Linked DNA regions of Homo sapiens. The protein of the gene in region 2 interacts with the protein of the main gene of each other region in a pairwise test. Each region holds a gene or a part of one and is shown on either strand. Other genes may lie near its edges.

Evidence for each region. Proteins that work in one complex are often made in the same cells at the same time.
Region 1: the proteins of CREB5 (region 2) and LCE2A interact in binary tests that used the Homo sapiens proteins (3 or more experiments, as listed by UniProt).
Region 3: the proteins of CREB5 (region 2) and MMADHC interact in binary tests that used the Homo sapiens proteins (3 or more experiments, as listed by UniProt).
Region 4: the proteins of CREB5 (region 2) and ZNF330 interact in binary tests that used the Homo sapiens proteins (3 or more experiments, as listed by UniProt).

Annotation. Positions count from the first base shown.
Region 1 is NC_000001.11:152,697,064-152,699,942, reverse strand, and holds LCE2A (late cornified envelope protein 2A), read right to left. Parts: upstream 1,599-2,879; 5' UTR 1,549-1,598; intron 1,062-1,548; 5' UTR 1,042-1,061; coding exon 721-1,041; 3' UTR 501-720; downstream 1-500. UniProt on the Homo sapiens protein: Precursors of the cornified envelope of the stratum corneum.
Region 2 is NC_000007.14:28,818,018-28,821,517, reverse strand, and holds part of CREB5 (cyclic AMP-responsive element-binding protein 5), read right to left. Parts: intron 3,448-3,500; coding exon 3,339-3,447; intron 2,758-3,338; coding exon of another isoform or gene 2,753-2,757; exon of another isoform or gene 2,534-2,752; intron 2,403-2,533; coding exon 2,239-2,402; 3' UTR 1-2,238. UniProt on the Homo sapiens protein: Binds to the cAMP response element and activates transcription.
Region 3 is NC_000002.12:149,574,276-149,577,775, forward strand, and holds part of MMADHC (cobalamin trafficking protein CblD), read right to left. Parts: intron 2,268-3,500; coding exon 2,162-2,267; intron 1,567-2,161; coding exon 1,436-1,566; intron 1-1,435. UniProt on the Homo sapiens protein: Involved in cobalamin metabolism and trafficking. Plays a role in regulating the biosynthesis and the proportion of two coenzymes, methylcob(III)alamin (MeCbl) and 5'-deoxyadenosylcobalamin (AdoCbl). Promotes oxidation of cob(II)alamin bound to MMACHC.
Region 4 is NC_000004.12:141,230,895-141,233,045, forward strand, and holds part of ZNF330 (zinc finger protein 330), read left to right. Parts: intron 1-544; coding exon 545-591; intron 592-1,630; coding exon 1,631-1,748; intron 1,749-2,151.

The sequences.
Region 1 (2,879 bases), on a different chromosome or scaffold from region 2:
CCTCCCTGGAGAGTAGTTAAGTGGCAATGAGTTGTCATTTAAACTTGCCCCTAAGGGTTCTGATTCTCATACCAAGCATTTTAAATCAGATGAAAAGAATTCTGTTAAATATACCTTTTTGCTTGGAGTACCAAAGATTTTTCTAGCTTTGTCATCATGGTATGAAGAGAAAATGAAAATAAGTTACATTCAGCATGGTGAGTTAAACTGAGCAAGCAGCACATGGCCAGCGGTTCTCAGCCCTGGGGCTGTCAGTCCCTTCAGGCCCCTGCCTGGGCTGAGAGGGTCCACATCTCACAGTCTCCAAGTGCACACAGGCAGTCCCATTGAGAAGCCCTACTGTGAGGCTGCTCTTTCAGGATTGACCCTCTGGAGACTGCTTCCAGCATACCTCTTTCTCACACTCCACTCCTACCAAAGCATCCTTAAAAGTGTACGGCTGGGGCACTGGACTTTAAGGGATTTGAAAAGAATAGAAGAATTGACAATGGCCAGGGTACTTCACGAAGAGGCAAAAGAGCTTTATTGTTGTATGAGGTAAAGTGGGAAGGTAAGATCAGGATCCAGGATGGGCTCTTGGGCCATGACAACAGACAAAACACCTCACAAGGTGTGTCAGCCCAAGGAAAGGAGAAAAAGGGGCAGGAGAAGCATCACTCTGGGACAGGTCCTGGTTGCAAGTTTCTCCATAAGGGTTGCTCTGTGATGTTCGAGGTCTGGTCAGCAGCAGTCCCCAGAGCTGTGGCAGCAGCCAGAGCCCCCAGAAGGTTCACACTCACAACAATCGGGGCTCTGGTGCCGGTGCCGGTGGAAGAGACGGGGCCTGTGGTGGCTCAGGCAGCAGCCGCCACCCCCAGAGCTGCAGCAGCCCCCAGAGCTGGAGCCGCAGCAGCCCCCAGAGCTGGGACCACAGCAGGAAGAGACTGGAGGTGGGCATGGGGCTGGGCACTGAGGTCGGCACTTTGGAGGACACTTGGGTGGGCATTTTGGGGGGCACTTGGGAGGGGGCTGGCACTGCTGCTGGTTTTGCTGGCAGGACATCTCAGTGCGACTTTTTCAACCTGAAATTCGAAATAGTCAAACCCTTTAGCTGTGAAAAACCAAGGATGGCAATTTTATCTCTTTTAAAACTAAATCATATGGTGATGGTGAATAATACTCAGTGTGTGTATATATATACACATACACACATATATATCAACAAGTGAAAGAAAACAAATCCTGCTGAATGAAAATATATACTTGAAAATCAGATATAATAAGAAGCTTCTTATTCTTTTAGAAGATAGGCAGTATTTTCTAATCTTCATGAGCTTGAATAAAGTATTCATACCCAACAAAGTATCCATTTTTGAAATATAAGAATAAGCCCTTGATGAAACTGTCAGATACACATTTCTCACAGCCCAAGGCAAGATTTCCAGAAACTCAAGTCAGACTGTATCTCTTTTCTGCATATAATAGCACAGAATCAAAGAAATAACTCTCTGAAGCCTCCCTTAATCTTCCCATTCCCCTGTGCCCTCTGGCTCCCAGGTTGCCACTCACCCTGGTCACACACAGGAGCACAGACACGTCCTGGGGAAGTCAGAGCAGATGAGGTGCTGGAGCTGAATATGTCTTTTATAGGCTCAGGCTTGGCTCTGGGAAGAGCGGGAAGTGGCTCTTGCACAACCAGGCACGTGCTGGGTCATTCCTCACATTCCCCTGCCTCCTTGTCCCTACAATCCAAGGAAGCACTGGGAGCTCCCAAGACCTCCCTCTGGGAAGGGGGTCTAAAGGAGCTTTAACCAGTCACAGCCCCCCCCAGGCTGGTCCCCGTGGAGCTGCCAGGGGATTCTTAAGGAGCTTGTGCCTGGACAAAGGCTCAAAGAGTGACTTCTGAGAACACCAGAGATCCTTGCCATAGCTTTCCTGTGGAAGTATGCTATTCCAGCTTCTTCCCATCCCCAAGTATAGTTTTCCAAGCCCTGCTTCCACAGCTAGGCAGGTTTCTTTGTGGCATTGAGTCAGAGACCATTTCCTTCCTAGGATACACTCCTCCCCTTCTGCTCAGCCCTCATTCCTGACCCCATGTTGCTGTGTGGCCTGCAGAACCCTGCTAGGAGGATTAATAAGTGAATCAAGATGGTTTCCTCAGATTTGGTGGTGATGATCATTGTGACTAAACTTCTTCACTTAGAAATTAAAATGTCTACTGTGTAACAAGGCAGTTTTTAAAATAAGCCAATAGTTTTTTGAATTGGAATCAGAAGAGCTCTGTGTTTATGAGCCCAGTGACCTCAAAGACTATATATAGACAATCTAAATCCTCAACTGTAAAACAGGCCTATTAGCACCTTCCTCTCTGAATTGTTGGTTCCATCAAGTGAGGCTTTTGCACATGATAAGGCACAAGGAAGACACTTAAACAATGTCATTTTTTAAAAGAACGAGGGCAGTGTGTGAGACAGAAAAATGGACAATATTCAGTCCCTGTCTTTGAAAATTTTATTTAAAAATATAGGTAGGCTAGCGAAGGCTCTCTTAGGAATGTACAGTGTACATTCAGGATTTTGAGAAGTCTAATTATTTCTTGTCAAGAAGGTGATGGGAATCAAATGATTTATTTAATCTTCTTAGTGAATGACAGGAGAGTAAGGAATCTGATACAATTTTGGATTAGATACATTCATCCATTAATCAATTTATTTCATCCATCCATCCAACATTTACTGAAAACCTACTGTATGGCATAAGTTAGAATACAGCTTTTGAAAAAGATAGTCCCTTCTTTCATATACCCTTGGTCTAGAAGGTAGGAGTATATGGTCTTTACATTTCTGTCATACTAAGAGATGCCCCATCTCCAATAGTTTTCTTTTCTAGTCTCAGATGTA
Region 2 (3,500 bases):
TTATTCCATTTGCATTTTTTCTTTTTTTCTCTTTTCTTTTTTTGCTTTTTTTTTTTGCTTTTGTTTTGATTCTTCAACCATATATCCAAGTCATAAGTTTCACTGGACACTCAAAACCATCTTTTGAAAGCACTGCATACAAGGAAAGATTGTTGATAAATATTGATTTAAAAAGTAAGTTATTAGATAAAACTGAAACTAGTTATATAAAAATCATGCTTCGAGACCCTCATATTTTCTTTTTTTCTCCAAAATAGATTCTTATACTATAGTGAGAGAAAAAAACACATCCTTCCCTTTTCTGCACTCTTATAAAAGCTACACCTTTTGTAAAATACTGTTCTTTTAAAACCCATGAACACACACACACACACACACACACACACACACATTAAGAGGTCAAGCATTCAAATGGAGATGAAACACCAGCACCTGCCTAGATTGCTAGAGAGAAACATTCACCCCTGTTATTTGTGAGATGTGATATTAAAACATTAGCACAGTAGAATGGCTTGTTTCAAGGAGGCACGACTGTGGTTCAGGGACTATCTGCTTTGTATCACGGGCAAGTTCACAAAAGTTGTTGAAAATAAATCAGAATAATTCAGAAGAGTGAAGTAGGCTGGGTGCAGTGGCTCACACCTATAATCCCAACACTTTGGGAGGAAGAAGTAGGATAGTTTGAGACCAGCCTGGGCAACATAAGACAGACCTCATCTTTTATTTTAAAATAAAAGTAAAAATAAATTAGCCAGGCATGGTTATGTGAACCTGTGGTCCCAGCTACTCAGGAGGCGGAGGTGGAAGGATAGCTTGAACTCGGAGGATGCTGCTGCAGTGATCCATGATCGCACCACTGCACTTCAGTCTGGGCAATAGGTGAGACTCTGTCTCAAAAAAGAAAAAAAAAGAGTGAAGTAGCCTGCACCTCATCCATGGGGTTCCTTCAGCAGTCAAAGAGTGCTTAACTGTTGTGGGAAGGCTAAAAGTGCCCCTATGGAAACACTGGGTTTTCTTTCTCTCTTTGTTTCTCCAGTAGTTAGTCTATTTTCACCCCCCAGAACAGCAAAGCCGGTTCCATAGGCTTAAGAAAAAAAAAAAAATAAATCTTAGGCTATTAGCAGCTGATGATTGAACAATGTAATCTGTGTAGTGAATAGAGCCCTTCTGAATTATTATGTAGTACATGGATTTTCAACGTTATAGGCAGGCCGTATAAAACCAGTCGCAATCCAAGGGTGTCATGTTATAGCCCCACATCAAAATTTGGACTTTCGCAATCAAGGCTTACAAAGCTCCCTTCCCTAGTGTCTCCCCAGCTGGTATTCAACCATGCTTCACTTATAACTAAACCACCTTTCATTTGCTGTGATTATTAAAAACATTAAATCAGGCACATTAAACATCTCCTGGTTACTATTTTGTGAAAAGCAAGAGTTGAATGAACTCCAGCTGTGGGTGAAGTGTAAGTGAAGCAATGGTTAGGTCCACGTTTTGGAGGTTTGCTTTTTTTTTTTTTTCTTTAAACATTATTTTCTTATTCACATGCAATGCTAAAGGGAAAAAAATAAAACAGAAGGAAGTCAAAATGAATAGTAAATAGGGAGCCTAAGAAAAAGTGGAAATGGAGAAGAAAACTGGGCATTAGCAAGTGGACCAAGAGGAGGAGAGGTGAAGAGATGCTTGGTGGTATTATTTGGACATCAATGGATCTTATAATATTTTATAGTAAGAAAAAAAAAGGTATGGGAAAGGCTGTGTGTTTATCTGGAATTCTGGTGACACCACAGCACAAACTCAACATGAGTTAAGATGTCAAAAGATTTCCTACCCAGTTACCTTGGATCTGTCTTACTTGACATCTAGGTATACCTCATTTTAGCTAAAAGCTGTGGTTTAACAAGATTCAATGTTTCAGGCAAAGGGTTGGACTGATAAGAATGAAACCATGGCTATATACAGAAAAGGTTCAGTTTATAAACAAGTAACTGGTACCAGAAAACTGGAGAAAAGCACCAAAGCGTTTCCCAAGCTGATAGATATTAATTGCATAACTCCCTTTTTTCTTATATAACTAAGTATAAAAGACAACATTTCCATAATAACTATAAAAATGAAAGCCAGTCTTTGAAGAACTGAGGAGTCTTCCAGGTCTGAGTTAATTCTAAAAATGCCCTTAAAAGAAAGGACGCATGGTACGCTACAGCTCTTCTTGGAGGCCAGGTCTGATGGTGCATTTTAAAGAATCGGATTCAGGTCTGTTCTGTGAGTGGTGAGCTGGCTGAGGGTGGAGCTTCCTACCACCTCGCTGACCGATGAGGAAGTAGTGATGGTATTATGCTGGATGACTTGTTGCTGGGAGCAAGCTGGGACAGGACTAGCAGGAGGGCTACTCTCTGGACCTAGGGAGAAAAAAAAAGACAACACACACACATACACACACACCAATATAGGTCTTTTTTGTATGGACTTGTGGACTCCTCAGAGAAACTGTACTAGATATTTACTTGAAATAGAAGTTTCACACATTTTCTTCTGAAAGTTAATTTCAAAACTTTATTTTCAACTGTTGTCACAATGCTATGCCTTTCCAGTTTATATCTACGAGCAAAGCCATGCTTTCTGTATCAGTAAAATGATTTGATGTGTTTCAGTCATGGATATGTGAACTTCCCCATTTTGTCTTTTTAAATAGCCATCCGTATATCAAATGTGGAAAAATACTCACATGTGGTGGGAGAATCTGTGTTGCTCAATCTAAAAAATTATTTGAAAATAAATTGACCTTCAGCCATGAATCCCTGCTCCTCCCACCATCCCTACTCAACTATCATTTAACCAACTGGCATTCCAGATGCAGAAACTGGGGTCTGAAGGAAGGGATCATTTTACATATTGGTAAACTGAGGCCAGTCACTAGCTTTTCAGCCCAGTGAGTAACATGCAGTGTTTCTGGAGGCACTGGATATGATTCACCCAAGGCCTGGTTCCCAGACCACAGATTTCTGAAGGCGACTGCTAGGCCACTGGTACTTGGGCTTCAGCTGGCTCTTTTCTTACTGGCTGCAAAATTGGAATTTGGTATTTCTTTTGATACTTTGAAATGCTAGGGAAGGAGTGGCCAGAAATTATCAGGAGGTGGTGGGCATGGTGTTGCACAGGGGTCAGAAAAAAGGGATCCCCTTGGAAGAATAGTCTGGAAGCCACTCAAGAATTCTTGTATATCTGCCTGGAAGTACAATCTACACTTTACTTTTGCTCTTTCAATCAAATTCAGTGCAAACTTAGTGGCAAAAAATATTGGACACTAAAGAAAAGTGAAAAAGTCGGCGACTTACTTAGATATCCTTGTGATTCTTTCTGCATGGCTGTTATTGGGCAGTCTTTATGTGTTAACAACAACTGTTTCAGCTGGGCCACCTCATTTTTCAACATAGACACTTCATTCTAAAAGAGATATGTATTAAAACCATGTTGAGAAGACCAGAGGATACAAACCC
Region 3 (3,500 bases), on a different chromosome or scaffold from region 2:
ATGTAAATAGAAAATATCCTATAACTCTCTATAACTCCCTTGTTAATTAGTATATAACTAATATGCTTGTGATTGTTAAAAACCACACGAAATCTATTAGCAGTTATGTGACATTTAAATGTGAAATTATAATATTGTTGAATATGTAAATTACAATATACTTTTACAAATAAAGACCATACATCTAATCCCAAATATAAAATACTTCCTAACATCCTACACAGGAATCACTAAAGGGATTTTTTAACTCAAGTTAGTGACTTGGGCCCCTTAGCTAACCTGAGTTGGAAAGAACTGCTAACACCCAGGGTAAGCTAGCATGACAGCTTATATACTAGAACAGTCTTTTTGATGGGCAAATTGGAAGTGTCTTATCAAAATTTAAAATGTAGATACACACTGATTCAGCAATTCTCTATTTAGGAATCTATAGATATTAGCATGCATAAAAGTATTTGTAAAAAGACTGTCACTGCTTGTTGCCTATAATAGCAAAAGTTGGATTTTAAACTTATAAATGACTAAGAAACTTCTTTTATAAGAGATGGTAGGTATCACTTTGTCGCTCAGGCTGAAGGGCAGTAGCACCATCAAGGCTCACTACAGCCTCGACCTCTCAGGCTCCAGTGATCCGCCACCTCAGCCTCCAGAGTAGCTGGGACTACAGGTGCGCACCACTAAACCTGGATAATTTTTTTTGTAGAGACAGGGTCTCACTACAGTGCCCAGGTTGGTCTCAAACTCCTGGATTCAAGCAATCCTCCAGCCTCAGCCTCCCAAAGTGTTAGAATTACAGGCGTGAGCCACTGCACCCAGTTAAAATTCTTAAATAAATTAAAAAGTTTATGGTTTACCCTGTGATATTAATACTATGCAGATTTTATAAAGAATGAAATATATCTATGTGTAAGCATGGAAACATGTCAAAGCATACTTTAGGTTAAAAGCAAACCACAGAAAAAAATGTGGGTATACATTATTACACTATTATTGTACTGCATACTGTTACTGTTTACTCTTGGAGAGAACTGGCATAATTTTCACTCTTTATTTTGACATGTTCTAAGCCCAGGAGAAAGGGGATAGATTTGGAGGGGAAGATGGGGAGATGAAGGGGGAGATGGAGAAGGAGAGGGAGGGGGAGGCTGAGGGGAGAAGGATAAAGAGTTAATTTTACCTTTTTGTCATTTACCAAATTTTCCAAAATAGACTTTTTAAAAATAAATTGAGGAAAGTAATAAACAGAATCTAAACTTTTAAGGATACTAAAAAGCTGCACTTTTACTCTCAAAAAAGATGTAAGTCCTTTAGTATTATAATACTTTGGCAGAAAATGAATAAAGGGTGGAAATGACAGTCATCATTTTAAGACATTGGTTCACTATTACTTAAATAATGACCATAAAATTAAATTATTAGCAATTGAAAGAATTACCTTTTCTAAGAGCACTTCTCTTTCAATTTCTACTTCTTCACTCCAAACAGTCATATCATTCTTAGTTTTTTGTGTTACAGTCAGAATCATTAGTTTGCCATTAGCTACTTCTGGAAACAGTGATTCAAAATCTACAAATAAGAATAAACATTCCAGGTAGAAAAGAATTTGATTTTTAAAGAACAAATTTTTAAAGAAGGATAAAAGTACTTCTTTAGAAAAATGCTGATTAAGTAAAATTACTGTGGTATTAGTTAATTTTTATAAATGTATGTTATTTTTGAAAAGGGTAAAATTCACTTAGTTTTGTTTACTTCTGCTTTTGTTGGATGAACTGAAATATTACTACCAACAATCCTGAAGGGTAAGTAGGATTACACGTTATTTGGGGTTAATATAATTTTCAAAAATGCTTACTGTTAAGATTTTTCCGTATTATATTAACTCATAAAATTATAACTCTAATAATCACCCAGGAGTAAAAATGACTTTAATTTAGCCTTAGGAAAAAAGTTATTAAAAATTTTACTCTTCCTATCTAATGGCAGCATGAGGTCAGATGTCACAGGACATTTCAAAGCCTTTATCTTGGCCATGCAATCATTTCCAGCCAGATACGGTAAAATATAATATTAAGGTATACAGCGTTCCAATTTCTATAGAGTACATTATTCAACATATTAAAAAAATTAGTAACAGTGTTTCAAAGTATAAAGCATGACATACCTTTTCGCAGCAATTCTGGACATGTCTGTATTGCACACTCTACTCTGGCACTTTCAAAGTAAGTTTCTGCACTGTTAATTTCTTGTTCAACAGGTGCATCATTACCCTAAGGGGAACAAGGATATAAGTCAACAAAATCTGGAGTTCAAATAAAACGGTATCTTGCCTGTTATAAACCTGTCTTCCTTAGAAAGCTTTTTGTTTGTTTTTACAAAAAATTATAATCTAACTGGGAGGTGAGGTAATAACATTTTCTCATTTACTCAAACTTTTCTCTACAATGAATATAAGATTTGGAAGTTCAAAAAATGTGAATACAGCAGAGCATGAATATATAAATATACTGATATTCTAAAACTTGGTATAAACAGAAATTGGCTAAGTAACTAAAATGCCATAATGTGTCTCATAATGTTACCTCTTCTATTTTATGGTAATATTTAATTATCTTTTCTTCTATAATCTGTAAAAGGGGGATAATGATACTAACTTACAAGATACATGACTAAATAATACAGCCTCTCCTACAGGAAGAGCTTAGAGGCTTTTATTCAACTGAAATTTACTGAGAGCCTACTATACATCAGGCACTATGACAGGAGCAGGCGCTGCAATGGTAAAAAATTCAGTCCTCACTCTCAGCTATTTCAGGCCTAATAAAAAAAAATAAGTACAAGCAAATAAATGCAATTAAATATGACAAGTGCTACAGAGTTATGAATAAAGTCTTCCAGGGGCATAGATGAGGAAGAAACTTACTTTGCTGGGAGGAATCAGGAAATGATTGAAATGGTGATATTTGAGCTACAAGTTAGTTGATGTGTTATGTCTGACAGGTAAAAAATAGCTGGTACAGAGGTTAGGAATTCAGGAGGAAAAATAGTCCAGCAAAAGATAATAAAGTACAAAGACACAGAATGTGTATTCAAGAAAAATGGCAAGTATGTTGTGGCTGGAGTGCAGAGGGAATAGGAAGTAGTGGCAGATAAGGTGGGAAAGGTAAGGGATCAAAATTATGAAATGCCATTTATTCAGCATTAAGAAATTTGGACTTTAGTCTACAGGCAATGAGAAACAGCAATATCAAATACAAAAATTAGCCAGGAATGGTGGCATATGCCTGTAATCCCTGCTCGTTGGGAGGCTGAGGCACGAGAATTGCTTGAATCCAGGAGGCAGAGGTTGCAGTGAGCCAAGATTTGCAGAGCAAAACTCTGTCTCAAAAAAAAAGAAAGAAAAAAAAATATTGTGGGCTAGAGATTATTACTATCCTCATGTGACATTTATAAAGAAACAGGAGTGGTCAGGCACACTGGCTCACGCCTGTAATCCCAGAACT
Region 4 (2,151 bases), on a different chromosome or scaffold from region 2:
ATTGAAATGAGACACCATATAAAACAATAGCATGTGGTACTTGGCATTTAAAAAGCCCTTTTTAAATAGTAGTTACTATTATAGGAAAAAGACCGAAATTCCCCAGGTATTCTCTTCCTTTAATTTGGTTCTTGTTCTGGTATGAAATCCTAATTATTATACTTATTTATAAATTTAAAGTAGATAAGTCATCTCTGTGATATACATACAACATACATACTACACACACATAGACACACAATGTGTATGCATGTGTATATAATTCTTGCAATATTTATATATAAAATTCTCAGATTAAAAGAGCATCTCGAAGTATATAGCATTTTTGAGCCTTTCGTCGCCTTTTGCAGAATGTATAATAATAAATTTAATTATTTTATTTGCAGCATGGGAGCTTTGTGTGTTTTATAGCATTTGAACCCAAAAGACAGGCAGCTGTCTATAAGGCTATATTCCATTGCAAGCTTTTAGTGATTTGATAAAAGACAAAAGAAAATTCTAAGAACCAAATAACGGGATTTTAAAATTAATCTATTTCCCACAGGTGTTTCATGCAATCGGCTTGGTCAGCACTCATGTCTCCGTTGTAAGGTATACCAATGCGTTTTTTTCTTTTTAGATTTTGTTTTTAATCTCTATACCCCTCCACCAGTCCTTGGCTTATATGCAGCTATAATTAATTTATAAGGGACCTTAAAATTATGTAGTCTAATTCTTTTATTTTTGAGACTGTGGAATTGAAGTTGAGAAAGCTTACATGACTTTCCAATGGTCATCCAGTCACCTTTTAGTAGAGCTGTGGCTAGTGCACATTTCTCTGGAATCCTGGCTCTGTGTTTTTAGTGGAGAACATTCTGACCAAGATGATGAGAGTCTATTTTAATTAATGTCAAAATATACCTGCTTAGAAGAGTTTGGGTAAAGATTTCCAAATTTTTCTGTGTCCTTAGGCCTAGTCTCTAGCATTCGTTCGTCAAAGATTACTAAACAGATGCAGCCAATGCCCTTCCTCTCAGAAGCGTTTCTCTAGTTCTTATATTCCTAACCCTATGTCTTATTTATCTTCCAACTCTGTTCTAGTTTTACCAAATGGTGTTCAGGCATTATCTGTGTTTTCTTTGTCTGGAATACTTTTCCATCTTGGCTTACCCTATTGCCCTCCCATTCTTCATATGGCTATTAAGACTTCGTGTCTCTAAGATGCCTTTCCCAAATCCCATGTCTGCTTTAGTGCCCTTCCCTCTGCACTTCCCGTTCAGTGCTTAGTGTCTTGTAATTGCCTTTTCACTGTCTCCATCCCTAGTTAGACCATACACTGTGTGAGAGTAAATAGGCTGTTCACCATTATTTCATTTCATCAGGGACCTTATGAGTACTGAAATATTTGTGAACAGCTAAATGTACTTACATGTCATACTCAATATAGTCTGCCTTTTGTTAGATCATTGTTCAGAAGGGTCCTGACAAAAACCATTTCTGTTAAGAAAATGAAATGAGAAGTGTGACTGCTCCCAACAAAATTGTTAATCTCACTGCCTTAATAAAGCTATATCTTTAAAACACTGAATACTGTCTTTTTGTATATTTTTACATTTTTATTTATTTACTTTATTTTGCTTCTCCTATACAGGCTTGTTTCTGTGATGATCATACAAGGAGCAAAGTGTTTAAGCAAGAAAAAGGAAAACAGCCTCCTTGTCCTAAATGTGGGCATGAAACTCAGGAGACTAAGGACCTTAGCATGTCAAGTAAGGCCCTTAAGATACTAAGGAAGTGATTTTTGCTTTCATACTTAGACAAAGTTTATCTTTTTTTTTTTTGGTCTATTTTTCTTATTGCCTCTTCTTATTTGAAAAGATGAATGTGTTCTTTTAAGCAAGTGGAATTTTACAGCTTAGGAAAATATGTGGGTAAAGTTTTTCAGTTTTACTTAAATAGACCAATATTCATTTTGATATTTGGTATTTGCCTTAGTTAATGACAGCAAATACTGAAATTTAAGATAAAGAGTGATTTTTTTTTATTTTTGTTGAGTCTTCCTTGTTAAATAGTTGAGTAGCTATAATTCCTTAATATTAAAGTGGTGGTAATTTTAAGTACCTAGAAGTCAAATTCACTCTGAAGCTATCTTAGGTGTGTGATATTTGAGCA